2 separate regions of the Homo sapiens genome follow, and region 2 is linked to region 1. The links come from fine-mapping of genetic effects on gene expression. Tissue or cell type: monocytes after Pam3CSK4. Region 1 holds a variant in brackets; the other region holds the start of a gene. All regions are shown on one strand. Distances are between the middles of the regions. Region 1 has its middle 47 kb from the start of NEDD4. Region 2 holds the start of NEDD4 (NEDD4 E3 ubiquitin protein ligase).

The links.
Region 2: it holds the start of NEDD4, and the variant in region 1 is fine-mapped to the expression of NEDD4 in monocytes after Pam3CSK4 (Quach 2016, PIP 0.95).

Annotation. Positions count from the first base shown.
Region 1 is chr15:56,036,573-56,045,477 of GRCh38, forward strand. No RefSeq gene overlaps it. Among named protein-coding and RNA genes, the nearest start is that of NEDD4, 47 kb to the left of the region's middle. RefSeq lists an enhancer at 3,594-4,793. The variant G/A (reference allele first, on the strand shown) is at 4,070.
Region 2 is chr15:55,989,011-55,997,915 of GRCh38, forward strand. It overlaps NEDD4 (NEDD4 E3 ubiquitin protein ligase), which reads right to left and starts at 4,602. Exons shown (of 29, transcript NM_006154.4): 1 at 4,501-4,602. The coding sequence starts at 4,545. RefSeq lists an enhancer at 3,850-4,632 and silencers at 4,135-4,484, 4,725-4,824, 5,611-5,808.

The sequences.
Region 1 (8,905 bases):
ACTCCTCTCTCTGGCTCCAAACATACACCTACCAGAAATCATCACCCTACACCTAGCAGTACTGGTTGGATTTCATTTTTAAAAAATTACTGTTGGCTGCTGTCTTGTACCTCCCCTATCTGAGAACTTGAGCCCTCAGCCTGTGTTGGGGGATGTGCTCGCATGGCTTCTCCTCAGTACACCAACACGGGTCTGTCTGTCTGGAAACAGCTTCCAGCTGGTTTGTTGCTGGCAGCAGTGTCCAGCTGCCCTGATCTAGAGAAGCCGCTCTCCTATCCATGGTTTTGTCCCCGTGGCCCTTGCCCTTGTCTACACAGACCTGGCTCACCTGCTTTCTTGGCAGGACCTACCCAGTAGTCACCCACAGGATAGTACTCACCTTTTCTCTCTATTTTCTGTGTACCAGCCTCTCCTTTGCTCTCATCTTCTTTCCTACCCAGTTTAGGTTTTCTCCCCCTTTGCCATATCTTTTCCTCACCTCACTATTGTTTCATCTGAATTTTCTAGTGTTAGTAACATTCACCTTTGGATGGGAAAATAATCAAGTCACGACATTACTCAGAATTAAACTAGATATCTCTAAGTTTTCTTTCAACACTATAATTTCATGATTCTTTGGAGCTACTGTTCTCCCCAACTTCTACCTGCTAAATAAATAATCCAGTTAGAACTTTCACTTTAGTCTGTACTTGACTCTATTTAGAGTTAATTTAGGAGACAGAATAATGGCTCATAAGTTTCTCAACCTCACTAATAAGCAAAGAAATTCAAATGAAAGAGGATTGTTTTCAATCCACCAAACTGACAAAAATGAAAAATATCAATTCCCAGGGTAGGAAAGTTGGTTGGCTGGTACTTTGGGATATATCATTCTGGAAAAGAATCTGGTAACATGTATTAATATTTTAAATATGCATATTCCACATTTGGGAATTTATCCTAAGGCCAAATAAGCAAAGATGTATATAAAATAATGTTAATTGCAGCACTGCATGTAGTAGAAAAATTCAAAACCACTTAAGTGTCCATCAGTAGGAGAGGGTTAATATGATACATGCATAATACTATGCAGATTAAAAAATAATCAGATTGATAAGTGATTCTCAACCCTGACTGCACTTGTGAATCCAGAAACACTTAAAAAACTCGTAATTCCAGGATCCACCCTCAGAGGTTCTGATTATCTGTTTGAGAATGAGGCCCAGTATTTGCACTGTTTTAAAGTGCCCCAGGTAATTCTAATGTGCAGTCAAGTTTGAGAACCACTCAACCCTTAATATGCGAGATGTTTCTATCAGCTCTAACAAGAAAGATGCCCATGATACACTGCAAGTGAAAAAATTAGGTTACTTAATTTGTTGATTATGATTTGTTAAATTGAGCTAAAAATGGCCTGAGAAGGACTCTGTACTTCTATATTTGAGTCCTTGTGGACAAACTGTAATCTAACTTAATAGGTAGACAAGATTGAAAACCTAACTTAGGAGCATGTGCCTGTAACAAGAGCTGAGTCTTGGCCAATCCCAACAGCCATACTTCAACCACTCATACACTGCTGAGTGTTCAAACTGTGTTCACGTAAGGCAAATGTCGAGCTGTAACCAATCCAGCTGTTTCTGTACCTCACTTCCAATTTCTGTACATCACTTCCTGTTTTTTAATCTATAAATCTTCCACCACGTGGCTGTACTGGAAACTCTATGAATCTGCTGTGATTCTGGGGACTGCCTGATTCATGAATCATTTATTGCTCAAACTCCTTTAAATTTAATTTGCCTGAAGTTTTTATTTTATCAGATTACATTTATTAACAAATTATACATGTGCATTAAAATATAAAAGTTTACACACAGTTATTTCTGAAGAGTGAATTACATATTTGCAGTCTGTTTTCAACCATTATCATATATTTCTCTTTTTTGAAAAAATGAAAAGGCTGTACAGGCTGAAAATGCAGAGAAAAAATGAAAACTGGCCTTCAGATGGCTTCTGAGTGCCAACAGGGACTTCCATCCTAAACCTGGTTTTATTTCTGTGGCTGACAACAGCAAAGTGTGTACTTAGAGATAATATGGTCATTGTATTAGTTTGTTCTCACACTGCTAAAAAGAACTACTTGAGGCTGGGTAATTTACGAAGAAAAGAGAGTGACTTGACTCACCATTCCACAGGCTATACAGGAAGCATGGCTAGGGAGGCCTCAGGAAACTTACAGTCATGGCGGAAGCAGGCACATCTTCACATGGTGGAAGAGAGAGAGAAAGTGCTAAGGTGGAAGTGCTACACACTTTTAAACATCCAGATCTCGTGAGAACTCACTGACTGTCATGAGAACAGTAAGGGGGAAATCCACCTCCATGATCCAATCACCTCCCACCTTCCCCCAACACTGGGGATTACAATTCATCATGAGATTTTGGTGGTGACATAGAGCCAAACCATATCAGTCATCTTAGCTCAAGTCAAAAATACTGGCTTGGCTAAATAATTCATTATGGTTCCGTTCACCATGAATTTATGTTCTGCAGAAAGAAATAATGAAATGGAATATGTGCATCATCTTGTATTTTAGAAACAAAATGTTTAGGCAATCATTTCTAAATTCATACATTAAAAAAGTGTGTGCATACTTGAAGAGTTAAACTTTGTAGAAAGTATCTCGTAGGTGAACTGGCTTCAGTGGGCTTTACTGAAAATCATGATTTAGAGTTTTACCACATAGTAGAGTTCACTAAAAAATATTACAGCTCTCCAGGCATGGTGGCTCATGCCTATAATTCCAGCACTTTGCAGGCTGAGGCAGGAGGATTGCTTAAGAACAGGAGTTCAAGGCTGCAGTGAGCTGTAATCATGCCACTGCACTCCAGCCCTGTCTCAAAAAGTAATTACAACTCAATAAAACTGGTGTGTGTGTGTGTGTGTGTGTGTGTGTGTGTGTGTGTATCATTGATTGTAAGTCTGATATTTCTCTCTCCCTTCCTTCCTTGCTGTCTCCACCCTTGTAAACAAAACAAAACAAAAAAACTCCAACCAGTTTTCCCAGGGTCAGTCTACTGAAGAGCTGATTTCTACGTATTGCATAAACTATACTATTCATGAATTTTAAAAAATAACTTAAACTCTCAGGTGATATCATCATTTTCTTTGTTATTTCTTTCTATTGCATACCACCTTCAGAATGATAAAGAGACTGAGGCTCTAGTCACAATTATATTCAGCTGTCAGGAATGATTAACTATCTTCCTTCTCCCCATGAAGTGCATGAGAATGCAACCATGCAAGTTAGGCTGATAATGTCCCCCATCAGATGCTATGGCTCCTCTTGCCTCAGAAGAGAAAAACAGCATGGTTTTGTACTAGGTTATGGAATGAAGTCTGGGATGAATTTTCTGGTTTGTCTGGGGTCAGTCTTCTAGCAAGACTTACTTTAATTTTAAATTTTTTTAATTTAATTTTTTTTGAGACAGTCTCAGTCTGTTGGCCAGGCTGGAGTGCAGTGGCACTATCATGGCTCACTGCAGTCCTGACCTCCCAAGCTCAAGTGATCCTCCCACCTCAGCCTCCTGAATAGCCAGGACCACAGGCATGTGCCACCACGCCTAGCTAATTTTTAAAAAAATCTCTTTGGTAGAGATAGGGTTTCACCATTTTGCCCAGTATGGTCTCGAACTCCTGGGCTCAGGCCATCCACCTGCCTCATTATCCCAAAGTGCTGGGATTACAGGCATGAGTCACCGTGCCTGGCGAGCAAGACTTACTTTGCTTCAAGTTTTGTTTCCAGAACATTTAGGTACCAATTCTCAATATAGAATTCTAACTACAAAAGTCACAAGTTATAAGGCATTTTTGAAGCAGTCACTGTTCATGTCCATCTGTGTCTTTCTTTCCCTCCACTAGCATGGATAATTTGGAGTTAACTGTAGAGCAAATACTTAGGAAATTAATCCCACATGATTTTCAGGTTCAAGGTGAGAAAAAAAGGAGAAAGTACAGTTCTTGTACCTTGACACACTTTATTCCATCTGCAGAAGTGGCTGCAGCTCACATGTGTGACTCACGTTGGAACAGC[G/A]GGCTCACATAATAGCATCACGTGCTGGCAAAGTGTTCAGATGACAAGCCAGTTACCTCATTCGGCTGATGCAATCCTGGAATTTCCTGAATTGAAATACAATTTAGGACCAGAAGGGAGAGACCCTGGGCTGTTTGATTAGGGCATCACCTTTAGCTAATTCTAACCACCCCCACCTTTTTTTTCCCATTTGTCTATTTCCTTCTTTCCTTAGGTGTGAGGTAATAATACTAATTGGTAACAGTTAAACTGTGCTGTGCACTCATCTAAGAGTTTTACTCTTAATTGTCAAACAATCCTAGGAGGCAGGCATCCCATTTTTTTCAGATAAGGCAACTGAGGTGCAAAAATCCCATGTCATTGCTTTAGGTCACACAGGAGAAAATGTAAGGCTCTTCTCTTTGAGATGTATACCTGAGGATCTTTGCTTTTAGTGATCAGATTGTGTGTAAGTTTTCCAGGGAGTCCCACTCGTGGAAAGCCCACGACTGCTGTGAGCTGTGACTGAAGATGTTGCCACCTCAGTGTGGTCAATGGCTCTGTCATCCAGTTTTAACCTCCATATCAGAACTTTCTTTAAATTATATGTAGAATTTTTTATTTTTCTACTATTGTTTCAGATTTTTCTTAGTATTTTAAGATGGTTTTTAGTGTTTTACCAGAAAAGGGTCACCACTTAAGATTCCCCTACCCCTGCTTTTTAGGATTTAAGGAGTGGGATATAGTTATTTATTATTTAGTGTGTTAAGATTATTTTCAGATAATAGCAAATGGTCAAGTCTTAATCATTTTTATACCCCATTATTTTGTTCTGGATATAATACCAATATTTATATAAATAGACCAAGGTAGAAGGATTGCTTGAGGCCAGGAGTTCAAGATCAGCTTAGGCAACGACATAGCAAGACCCCATCTCTACAAAAAATTTAAAAAAATTAGCTGGGTGTGGTGATGCATGCCTATAGTCCCAGCTACTTGAGAGGCTGAGGTGGCAGGATCTCTTGAGCCAGGAGTTTGAGGCTGCAGTGAGCTATGATTGTACTACTGCACTCCATCCTGGGCAGCAGATCGAGACCCTTTCTTTAAAGAAAAAATAAACAGGCAAGGAATATATTAGCTTGATAATTATCTTTAGCTGTGACACAAAAAGTGAATACATCCTTCACATTCTGTCATCATGTAGGAATGGAGAAAACTATAAATATGTAAAAATCTTTGAGACCATATTAATGATGGATTCCATTAAGCCCTGGACATTTTGGTGTAACAGTTCCACCTGACAGCTACACCAATCCCAACCACACCATGAAGGGAAGAAACACAGATCCAGTACAGATTGATGGTTCAAACTTACTGCCTGGATGCAAGGTGCCCAGAACAGGCATTTCTAACTCCTTCTGGCCAGGGATGAAATGTGAGACCTTTTGTTACTTTTGAGACACAGAGTTCAACTCTTGCTCTCACATGTTCCTGCAATTGTAGAATATTTTAAAGATTAAAGTCATGGTTCTTTAACATCACCTGTAGTTCAGGGGCCCAGACCTGTCCTGTTAAATCCCCTGACACAAGGCAAGTGCTGCTTCAAGATTCCTTTCTTATCTGTCAAGGTAAACAAAACAAAACAAAACCAGACTTGTCACGCCAAGCTCATGGAGGATAGACAGAACTCTATAGACAAATTAAAAGTCTATTTATAATCACAGATATGCAATGAACCCAACACAATTGATGCTTTATTGCTTATTTGAAGATAAATTCCTATTTCTCCCACCTCTCCCTCTACCCAGTACATTTTAAATGTAATCAGTAGACTTAACAATTTAAGAGTACCCATAAATGAGGATACTAATAGGAATTAGCTGATTCGTCCCACAGAATCCTGAAAATGCTCATGAATTGGAAGTGCCAAGTATCTCAGAAGGTAGGGTTGTGTGTGTCAATGTGTGTGTGTGTGTGTGTGTCTCTGTGTTTGTGTGTATGTGTGTTAAATGCACCTGATAGCAATAATTTACGCATACCCTGAGAATGACCCTGTATAGCAGGTGCACCTGAATGCGGTTCAGAGTTCCAAGCTAAGGAATGTGGGAGAGGACAACGCAGAGATTCATTCCTTATCTATAAGGAACATCTAGGCCCCATCCTGTCCTGTGGAATGTGAGCTGTACAGAGGATTGAGGCCATTTGTTTTGGTTTAAATGCAAGTTTCCAGGTGGAGCTTATTAGGAGGCAGGGGCTAAGTGAAAATGCTGTAAAACCTGCATGCTTTTTGCAAGTGGTTGTGATTCTTCTGCTCAGCCTACTGCCCCTGGGTCGTGGGGTTCTCCTGTTCCGCCCACCACCACTGGGCTCTCCCCTGTGTTTAGCCCCCAGTACAACCCCATGTCTTGTTTGCTGGCTCTGGGTCTCTTCTTTGGCCTCTTGAACCTGGTGTCATCCCCATTGGAGTCTATAAAGGTTTGGTGCCACAGTGTGTAAAAAGCAAAGTCGAGGGACTGTTTGAAAGCCTGTATAAGCAACAGTTAGATTCCCAGGTTACTATCCACACTGTAAGGAGTCAGGTCCTACGTCTTCCCAGTACTAGTAGTGGAGGAGATACTTTGAAACTGAACTAGGAATAGAGAAGAGTGAAGATGAGATGACCCATTTGAAACAGAGTCAGTGATCTGCATTTGAAATTGTAAAGCCTTTTTCAAGTTCCCCTACTGAATTTCAGAATAACAATAACCAATCATACAACCACAAGCAGGATGTGGGGAGATGAACCACCTCAGAAAAAATACAGCGTCTCTCTAGAGACATTTGACGCAAGAAAATAGGGTCTGGAGGTAGGGAACCTAAGGCCAATTCCCACTGACTTCCTAGAACTGTATCAAAAGGAAAACCCCGACTTTCCACATCTAAGTAACAAAGAGACCACAGGCTACTCCCTTTGCAAACCACCCCCTCTTTCCTGCATGGCAGATGGAAAATTTAAAATACTTCTGATTGGTTGCTTTCCACAATCAGACTGATTGGTAGCCAAGTCTTCATTTGCATAGAAGTATAACTTTGTAACTTCACTTTAGCCTGTGATTGGTTGTTTTCCACAACCAATCAGATGTTTGCATAGAGTGTAACCGTTTAACTTCACTTCAGCCTTTGATTGATTGCTTTCTGCAACCAATCAGACTGATGTGGGCCACTACTTCATTTGCATGAGGTATACACCAAGTGGCCAATGGAAAACCTCTAGTGAATATTTAAACCCAGAAAATTATGTAACTAGGCTCTTCAGCTCCTGTGCTTGGGACGCTCCATCTCTGTGGAGTGTACTTTCGTTTTCAGTAAATCTCTGGTTTTGCTGCTTCATTCTTTTCTTGCTTTGTTTGTGCATTGTGTCCAATTCTTTGTGGAAGATGCCAAGAACCTGGACACCCTCGACCAGTAACGCATTGACCTTTGGGGCTACATGAAGAAAAAGCCAGCTGGCCACCTGATTTCCCTGGAGTGTACTATTCATTCACACTTCTTGATTTAGATGTAAATATATATACAGTCATAGCAATGAAAAACACTGAAAATGAATTTACCAAAATTTATGAAAAAACTGCATTGGAAGGATGGATTGGGGAAGCTAAGGGAGTGTAACTCCTCCTCTACCATGATAATAGATAACTTGGATAATTTCTAAAATTGGTGAATAAATAGCAAAGTTGCATATTTAGAAATATGAGGGTAAATGCTAGAACATGACAAAATTGAAAATAGTTACCTCTAAGGAGCAGAACAAGAAGATGAAGAAAGCAGAGGAATACTGTGTTTTATTACATACTTTTGATGGTTATATGAGTTTTTAAAACATTATGGACGAGTTATTACTTTGAAAGTGACGTGATAGTAGTACGTTAGATTATTGACTTTTCAATTAATACTTTAGAGGTTGCATACTTTAAACATGTCATAAATAACTCTGTTCCCTTCCAAAAGGAACCATATTGTTTTCTTTCAGGATGCTTCCTGAAAGTTAACTCTTTCAGGGAAAACAGAGATTTCCAGGGAGGAAATTCCAGGAAGACATTAGAACCCCAGAAGGGAAGTGGGAAGGCTGTCTTTCTGTAGACGCATCACTCTCTGTATATGAGCTGGGATACCTTTGCAGTAAATGGCTATTACCTTTCCAGAAATTGAAAAGCAAGTGCTTCGTTATTTAAGAATGTTGTTGAGATGTATTCTGAGGAGATAAACTGTGGAATACCCCACAAACAAAAAATAACTTCCTCATTAATTATGCACGGTGAAAAGACTCTTTAAACCTATTTTTAAAACAAATTATCTGTTCATCAATATTAGTTAATGCCCCTGGCAGAAATCAAGACCAGTTACAGATATTAAATAGAGAAAATCTGCCTGGTCAGGAGATATAGGTCAGGCTTAATTATCTGATTATTCAGTAGAAAGAGTAATATGGATTATTTAAAGACTCCTTTGAGGCAACACGGAGTTCTCTCTAGAGTCTTCTTCTAAAGAAGTAACTAAATATTATGACCTAAGTGGAGATCTGAAGAAACAAGCTGCTAAGCAAAGAAAGTCTTAAAGGTATTCCACTTCCTCATAAATTTACCAAAACAAGTTTTAGTTCAATGACTAATACATTCTTGTCTTTCCCTATAAAAGTGATTTCCCAGTTCAAGTAGTGATTCTCTTTAATAAGATCCAGACTATAAATGATCTTAAACCAGAAGAAATAACTAAATGTCATGAGGAAATCTCCAGGTCTAGCAATTTTGATAAAGTCTTGAAACCGTGACTTTGTCTAACATCCATCTTTCCACATTGGCTCTGTAAGACCTAACAGTA
Region 2 (8,905 bases), 48 kb before region 1:
GGATCATCTGAGGTCAGGAGTTCGAGACCAGCCTGGCCAACATGGTAAAACCCCATCTCTACCAAAAATACAAAAATTAGCTGGGCGTGGTGGTGCGTGCCTATAATCCCAGCTACCCTGGAGGGTGATGCAGGAAAATCGCTGGAACCTGGTAGGCAGAGGGTGCAGTGAGCTGAGATCACGCCATTGCACTCCAGCCTGTGTGACAGAGCAAGACTCCGTCTCAAAAGTAAATACATAATTTAAAAATAAATTATTTTAAAAATACACTATATTTATTCACTTCTTTAGTCCCTGCTCCATGAAAAATACTTTACAATGATCCTGGAATTAAAGAGTTGCAAAAAAGCACTAATGGCAAAAACAATACATGAAAGATTGGGAGAAATTACTAATACAGCTGCTGCTTAACCTATGCTTCTCCTCCTTTGTGTGTAGTACATAAAGGTTTGGGAAGTTTGTTCCCAGACTGAGTAAGGGTCAGTTTCTGCTCAGCCTTAGTGGGTCCAGAAGTATCAGAATATGCCCTTCTTACCCTGCTACTTATGCACTGTTGTGGCTGCTGCCACCAGGGGCATCTATTATTCTGTATGTGCAAACTGCACTCTCCATACCGATAGCGGAGACTCTGAACTCTTTCCTCTTTATTTCCTTCCTTCTTTTCCTTGCTTCAGTCAGCCTTTCTTATAGGAAACAGAAATCATTCTAGATGCTTTAAGAAGAAAGAAGCTAATACAGGGGATTAGATGCTTACAAAATTTTTGGAAGAGCTGGAAGAGTAGGTGCTAGGCTGGACTTCTAGAGCAGGGGTCCCCAACCTTAGGAACCAGCCACACAGCAGGAGGTGAGTGGCAGGCCAGTGAGCAAAGCTTCATCTGTATTTACAGCCACTCCTCACCGATCACATTACCTCCGGAGCTCTGCTGCCTGTCAGATCAGCAGCGGCATTAGATTCTCATAAGAGCATGAACCCTATTGTGAACTGTCCATGCAAGCGATCTAGGTTGTGTACCCCTTATAAGAATCTAATGCCTGATGATTTGTCACTGTCTCCCTGTCTCCCATTACCGTCACCCACACTTGGGACCATCTAGTTGCAGGAAAACAAGCTCAGGGCTCCCACTAATTCTACATTACGGTGAGCTGTATAATTACTTCATTACATATCACAATGTAATCATAATAGAAGTAGAGTGCACCATACATGTAATGTGCTTGAATCATCCTGAAACCACTGGACCGCATCCCCGGTCCATGGAAAAACTATCTTCCATGAAACCGGTCCCTGGTGCCAAAACAGTTGGGGACTGCAGTTCTAGAAGATCAGAAACATGGCAGAACTGACCCATCCAGGAAGCTACTACCTCTCCCAGTCAGAAAGGTAGATGATCAGGAGTCATCACCAGAACTGATGACTTCAAGAATATAATCAATCTTGACGTCTGGAAGCCACTACCACCACTACTTCGGTGACTTCCTATCAATATGTACAAAGCAAGTTACCAGATACTGGAATACTTTCGCAGAAAATTTAGATGTTTACATGACTGTGCTTATCAGCAGAAAAAGCCAAAGAAACAAAACAATATGCTCCACCTCATTTCCACTCTGCAAATCTCAAGTAAGTGCACTTAACTGGGGAGCCTACTTTGGATCCAGTCCATTAATTTCAATGGAGTGTGGGAAACAGTGTTTAGTTTTCCCACCTCCATATCACAGGGAGGTGCATGGGAAGGAGGTGGGAAGTGATGCTCAATTCCAGTCCCCGCATCCACCACACTGCTCTCCAATAAAGATCAGTGCATGTTATTCTCTACTGTGAATCTCAAGTGACCAGAGCAAATCTGGTATAAATTATACTACACTTCCTCCTTTGTTTGTTAACACTTTAAAGGTAAAATCCTGCACATGCAGCCAGGGTGATCTCTTACTATAAGTCACTTATATGTGGAAGAAGAGCCAAAACTCACTGAAAAGTGAGAGAAAGGTATTATGATCTACATTTTAGCATACTTCAGTGCTAATATGCTCAGACACTGACTCAGCGACTATTCACTATATACTGATTAAATTACAATTCTTTCACTATCTTCTATCCCATTTCAAATTATTTTTCTCCCTGTTTTAGTTTCAAATTTAAAATAAGAATCCTCTCCTTTTGTTGTAATGAAAAAGCACTTTACTTTTAATCAACAGCAGAGGGCTGCCTATTTCCAGACTAGTCTGTGAGTTTTAGAAGTGACATAGCTGCAATGCTTTCTTCCTTTAACAAAAGGGGTGTTTGGGGGTGGGGAGGATGGGGGAGTGTGGTTTCAATCCTTCTTTTACTTTTGTGATAGACCAGAAAATAAATGGCAAATGATAGTGGAGAGGGCAACCTCCACAAGAAAAAAAGTGACTTTTATCTTTCCCTCAGTCCGAGGCTGAGACTGTCTTTTTTCCCTCTCTATCCCTGGTGCCTAGCACAATGCATGGTACAGAGCAAACAGTAAATGAATGTCTGTTGAATGAATAATCCAATTACAATGGAAGAAGTGGAAGACTCTTCATCATCATGTCTCTTATCTTCCTATCTCACTCCCTTCCTCAATGTGGACAAAATAGAGCGGGGACAGAAGCAAATTAGAGTCATGGAACTGACAGCCAGAACTCCCAGAATGTGAATGGGATAGGCCACAGTCCATGAAACTTCCTAGAAGTACAAATCCTTCAGCAAGTTCAGGAAATCCACATTTCAAAGGGTGGAGTTTCTGGCCTTTGGCCCCAGTTCCTTACCGACCACCCATTAACTGCCACAATTAGTTTTATTTCAGCTGGGCAGAGGGGTGATGATTGAAAACAGAGAAATTACTAAAGTAGATAATTAAAAACACTGATCATGTACCAAGAGGGAGAAAACAGATGGTGAATGATACCTTTGGCACTATTTTCTTTAAGATCAACTGGCTCTGCTGGAAGGCGGTGAGATGAGAAATCTGCAATTAGCAGGGCCTACCTGTGAATATAGCAGGGAAAGAAAGTCCAAGGTCAGCCTGATTGGGTTGGACACCACCTTGAAGTCAACTGCACTGGGCAGTCTACGTAGCAAGCAGGGAAATCTGACTGATAAGAAAGCGACCACAGGTGAAGTGCTGTATTATCTTCTGATCTCGTCTACAGAATAAAGGTGCCATTAGCTAGAATGATATCTTTAGCTGTAACACATTGACTATTGTTTCTGAGGGACTATGAGCCGCCACCATTTGTCCATCATCACTTTATTTCTCTTCTGGCAGCAATAGCTAGGAAATTAAATTCTAATCGCATCACGTAAGCATTCTCAAAATATCCTGAAATAACTGCATTAACAAATTGCCCACCCTTTATAAACAAAGAACTCTCAAGAGAAGTGTAAAATGTTTGACGACACCAAGGTACTAAGAGAAGGAACTATACAACTTAAATATTACAATACTTAAGCAAGCAGTATAAATTAGGTTGATGGATTTTCAGTTAACTGGGTCTCATCTTGATAAAAGGTACATGTGGCAGCTTAGTCAGCCAACAAGAAAGCAAAAAACTTGATTTTTTTCACTCGGAACCAGTCACTGTTAGACTACATGCAGCCTTTTCATCTCCCACCCATTTGCATTTTTGAGACAATCTCCAAGAACACACAGAAGCCACATATCATTTACGACGGAACAACCTTTCCAAATGGTCGTACAATATTTTTAATAAGCATAGGCATAATCAGCATTAGTTATTTAGCTGAAAAGAAACAGCTTTGCCTTCTTCAAATCCCAGAGCTTAATCTAGTTTTCAAAGGGAACAGATGTGGTAACTTCTTTATAAAGTATTTATACTTTTTTGGCTTCACTTTTTAACATCAACGACGACCGGTGAAATAAAGCATGAACTTCTCACACTAGACACTTGTTGCTAAAGAGGAGGAGGAAAATTTATGTTCCTGCTCTCCCATCCCTGTCTCTAGTTAGGGGATTAAAAAGGATTTCAGATAAAGAAGAAAAAAACAAACCAGCGAATGACAATTCACTTGGAACTCTCCAGACCGAAGTCCGTAAAGTTAAGTCGGCCCGGCCTCCGCCAGAGCAAGCAAATCAACAGCGGGGATGCTGCGACCGTCTCCCAACGCCTGGGAGCTCCGCACACCCGGCGGGGGTGGCAGGAAGGGGCTGGCGCGGTGATGTGGGTCCCCCGCCGACCGCCTAGCCCCCTCCTCAACACTTCCTGAAGGAAACTGACAAGTAAGGCGGCGGCCGCTCCGGGAAGGGGCGGGTGTGGACCCGACAAGCTTGCTCCCTCCAGCGAGCCCCCAGCGCCCGCGCGCCGAGCCGCCCCCACAGTCCCCGCGGCGCCTCGCGCGCTCCCCAGGCTCGCGCCGAGGGAGGAGGGGCTGACAGCAGAGCCTCCGGTCGTGGCCGCCGCCGCTACCTCCCCGGGTCCGGCTGCTGAATAACCCGAAGGGAAGCCCGCCCCGCAGCCCCGCGGTCCCCGCACCTCGTCCTCCAGGAGCCCGAACACCTCCACCGCGCAAGTTGCCATTTCCGAACGCTTCCAGCAAACCGGACGCGCTCGCCCCCGCCCAGGGCAGGCAACTGTGGAGGAGGAGGAGGAGAAGCGGGAGGAGGCGGGGAAGAGTTGGAGGAAGAGGAGGAGGCGCTCCCTCAGCGACAGCAGCGCCTCCCGCGGCGAGCGGGCACTAGCGGCACCCGGCAGCGCGGCGGGAAAAGGCCGGCGGCGCGCGCTCCTGGGGCTGGGCGGGGGCGCGCGTGGCGGGGCTCGGGGAGTGGGGAGGGCGTGCGGCGGGGCTCGGGTGGGATGAGCGCGCGCGGCGGGGACCATGGCGTGGGGAGCGCGCGTGGCGGGGCGCGCCCTCGGTCCCTTCCCGGGAGGTGGGTGGTTGACGGGCCCGCCGGGGAGCCAGGGAGCGCCGGGAAGCGCCGGGAAGCCAAGCTGCAGTGTTCCTCAGCAACAAGTCTCGCTGAGATCCGACCCAGAGTTCGGCCTCTGACTAGACGCCTGGGAATCCGTGAGCTTAATCCCCGCTTAAATCCCAAACGGAAAATCATAGCGCTTTCTTGTCGGTTAAGGGTGTCATTCCCATAAGAAGCTGGACCTGGGGACCGCCAGGGAAAGCCTGAGCGTGGCAGCAAATGGGGAGGCCTGGAGGGATCGCAGCAGTCTTGGACTCGGGATCTGAAATTCTCTCCCTAGGATTTGTAAACAGTGCCAGTTCCTAAGCTATTTGTTGTCCTATGGTCTGTCCATCTTTAAATCCCACCAGTAACAATCCAATCTCCAGGCTGACCCTCTAAACCTGCTTTAGCTGGGCGTTGATCCGCAGCACCACCAGAAGGCAGTGACGAAGAGGGAAAAATAAAGTGAACTAGGACCTCCTGTAGAATAACTCCTCCTGTGGAATAACTCCTCCTGTGGAATAAGGTTATGGAATAATCATGCTTTTTAATATTCCTGTCTGATGGGCTTTATAATTCCATAATTACAGGAAGACCTCCACCAAATAAGGCATCCATAAAAGAGTCTGGGGAGAATTATGAACACCCAGGCCACAATTTATATCATGTTGTTTTTATACATTTGCAGAAATTTGCAGAATTCTGCAATCTCAAAATCTAATTTTTATTTTCCTCAATGATTTCAGAATAACTCTGATTTATTTTTAACAGTTTAAGATGCTACGTGGGAACAAGGCTATAGCCCATATTACTGGTTTGTTACGTAAGATTTTTCTCGTACTTGGCCGGGCGCGGTGGCTCACGCCTGTAATCCCAGCACTTTGGGAAACCTAAGGCGGTGAATCACCTTAGGTCAGGAGTTCGAGCCCAACCTGGCCAACATAGTAAAACCCTGTCTCTACTAAAAACACAAAAATTAGCTGGGCGTGGTGGCGGGCGCCTGGAGTCCCAGCTGCTTGGGTGGCTGAGGCAAGGGAATCGCTTGAGCTTGGGAGGAGGAGGTTACAGTGAGCCAAGATTGCGCCGTTGCACTCCAGCCTGGGCGACAGAACAAGACTCCACCTCAATTGTCGTACTTTATGATTGGTAGGATCCATTTCATTCATATAATATGTATCAAAATTCTGTTAATACACAATTCAGATTTTATCCGTATTAGGGGGAAAGAGATGGCACTTAATCAAACATGACTACAAAATTACAGAATGGTCAGGAATTGTTGGCTTACCTAAATCGAAAAAGCCATGAGAGCATTAATTTGTTTTTTAAGTTGTCACATATCTGTGGGATTTGTGGGTTAAGAATAAAATAATCTGAAAATATTGTGTGCCCTTCTATTTTGCGAATATTTCCCTCATCTCTCATGATACACATTTTTATGTTTAATTTTAAGTTAGTTAAGTCATTTGAATTTAAGTTAATTCAGTGTCATTTCAGGGCACAATTACAAACGTGTAAAAACAGCTTCCGTTACTGCTACTAAAATTTAATGAATATATGAGAAGTATACACAGCCTAAAACTGGTAATTAAAAAAAAAAAAATCAGTAAATCCCCAAGGGATTATAAAGTAAAGCAAATTGGCCATTTGATGTATCCAATAGGTATTAGTGATGATACTTCTAAAGACCACTGATTTGACTCATGATTTCTTATTCTGTCTTTCCGAATATGAAATCATGAAGAATTAAACAGCTACCAATACAAGATGAACTAGAGTAATTATTGTATCCCGGTCAACAGCTAGGAGGGGCACCTGAAATTAAAGGAAGCTCAAATCGGGATGGTGATATCAGCTGGTGGTCCAATAACCAACCACCACTGAGAAAGCTGTTTAGAATGAAGAACTCCTCTACATATCACTCAACTGCGCAGAACTCTCATGAAGGCGTTTTGTCTACCTAGGCTGCCTTCAATTAGGTTCATGTTGATTTGGTTTGAGTGTGTGTATAACCATGTGAGGCACGTGTGAAGAATGTGACATGGTGCATAACAATTGATTCTGTGCCTCATACCTGTGCTAGGGATCATCCCAAGCCAAAATCCAGGCAATTCTAGCAACCTCCAATAGCATCACCCCTTCTATCTCTTGTTCTTGAGTCTTTTCTCCCTTCAAATCTGCCTTTACATGAGCCTCCAAACTGATTAAGAAGCAAGAAATGAATGAAAACCAGTAAACCTGGTCTAGACTTTCTAGTAGTCTGTATACGTAAACCTCTTTAACTCTGCCTATAGATTTCACTGTGATGCAGAAATTGTTTCTAGTTTTTAAAATATCACCCCCTGGGATCAAAATTGGATGTGGAATGTAACAATATGAAAGGTAATGATACGAAATGCACTTTAATGTTGGTAATTAATTCCCTAAGGGATATAAAAAAGTCTTGTTCAGAAGTTCTCCTTTAATTCTCTCTTACTCTTAATATCCCCTGGCTGCTTCCTTTCTAATAGTTAATGTTTGAGATTTTTAAGGTTCATTTTTTCTTCCACTGGAAACTCCCTGGACCTCATCCATTGCCATTGCCATTACCATAGTTTCAGCTACTTTCTTCATAGAGCCCATCTCAGATCCAGAGCTCAGTAGTGCAAGAAATGTTTATTTGATTTTCTGAAATGAACTAAGTTTCTGCCTCCAGTAGTAGAATACATAGTCCCAATCAATTCATTGGTCTTGCCTGACCCTCTTTTTGCTAAGCTGGATTCTGACTTCTAACAGGCTGTTGTGCTCCCTCATCTTGGTGATAAAGGTTCTCATCACTCCCTCCTGGAATTAGTAGATGTATCTGTGTTCCCGCTGGCCTCTAGCTGTGGACATCTTTATCAAGTAGAATTACATTTGGCTGTTACCTAAACTAATAAGATTTAAAGATTCATGTTATATGGCTGTCATGTAAAAGTCTAGACAGTGGGCAGGGCAGGGTTAATATGGCTAGTTTGCTCTGCCAAAGGGTCAGAAATTCAGGCACTTCACAGCTCACTGCTCTGATGTTTGTAGGTGTGACCCTTATCCTCATAGTCCAGAGAGTGGCTCAAGCTTCAATCATTACGTCTATGTTCCAGGTTACAAGGCAGAGGAAGGAGTAAAGAAGAGAGTTCAGGTATCATGGTCATCTTTTAAAATGCCCTCCTCACCCCACAAGGGGTGGGAGGTAGTGAGAAAGACGGCCAGGTGCAAGGCAGTGGGACCCAGGTGTGTTCAAGGAAGGGTTTGCTTGGTGGACTGGTGATGGCAGAAATGGGAAATTAGTTACTTGTAGAGACAAGTGATCCAATAAGTGAATATATGAATGATAATGAGAACCACATTAGTCACTGTTGAAGAAGTTACAAGAATGGAAAGAGAAAACTTGAATGAGTCTTGTGTTGTTATAATGAAATTGGTGGTGTTGATATGAACTCAAAAGTTTTTAACATATATATATAGTATATAAATAAATGTAGATGTAAACCTCTGCTGCATACACACACACACACACACACACACACACACACACACAAATATTTTCTACATTTGTATTCTAAGAGGGCCTGGGAACAATGACACCCCAAAAGCAATGAGCATATCTTGCATCCATATTTTAACTTTTTACTAAAAGAAACCAGGGCTCCTTGGAAAAATGGCTGATTCCAGGACTAGGACAAGGCAAATAAAAGTTGAGCCTGAAACATCTTGTTATCCCAGAAAATAATGAAAGTAATGATGGAGACAGAATAAAAGGACACAGGAACCAACCTGAAAAAAGCTCCCACTGGCCAAAGATGGCCTAACTTGAGCACTAAAATAAATTATGATAGCAACAGATTATAATCCAATGAATAATTCTGGTACCATGTGTTCATTACAGATATAAATTATAATAAATGAGTACATTCAAAGTTCAATGAAAAATGAGATTTTTACAGGGTTCAACATATATTTCCAGAAAG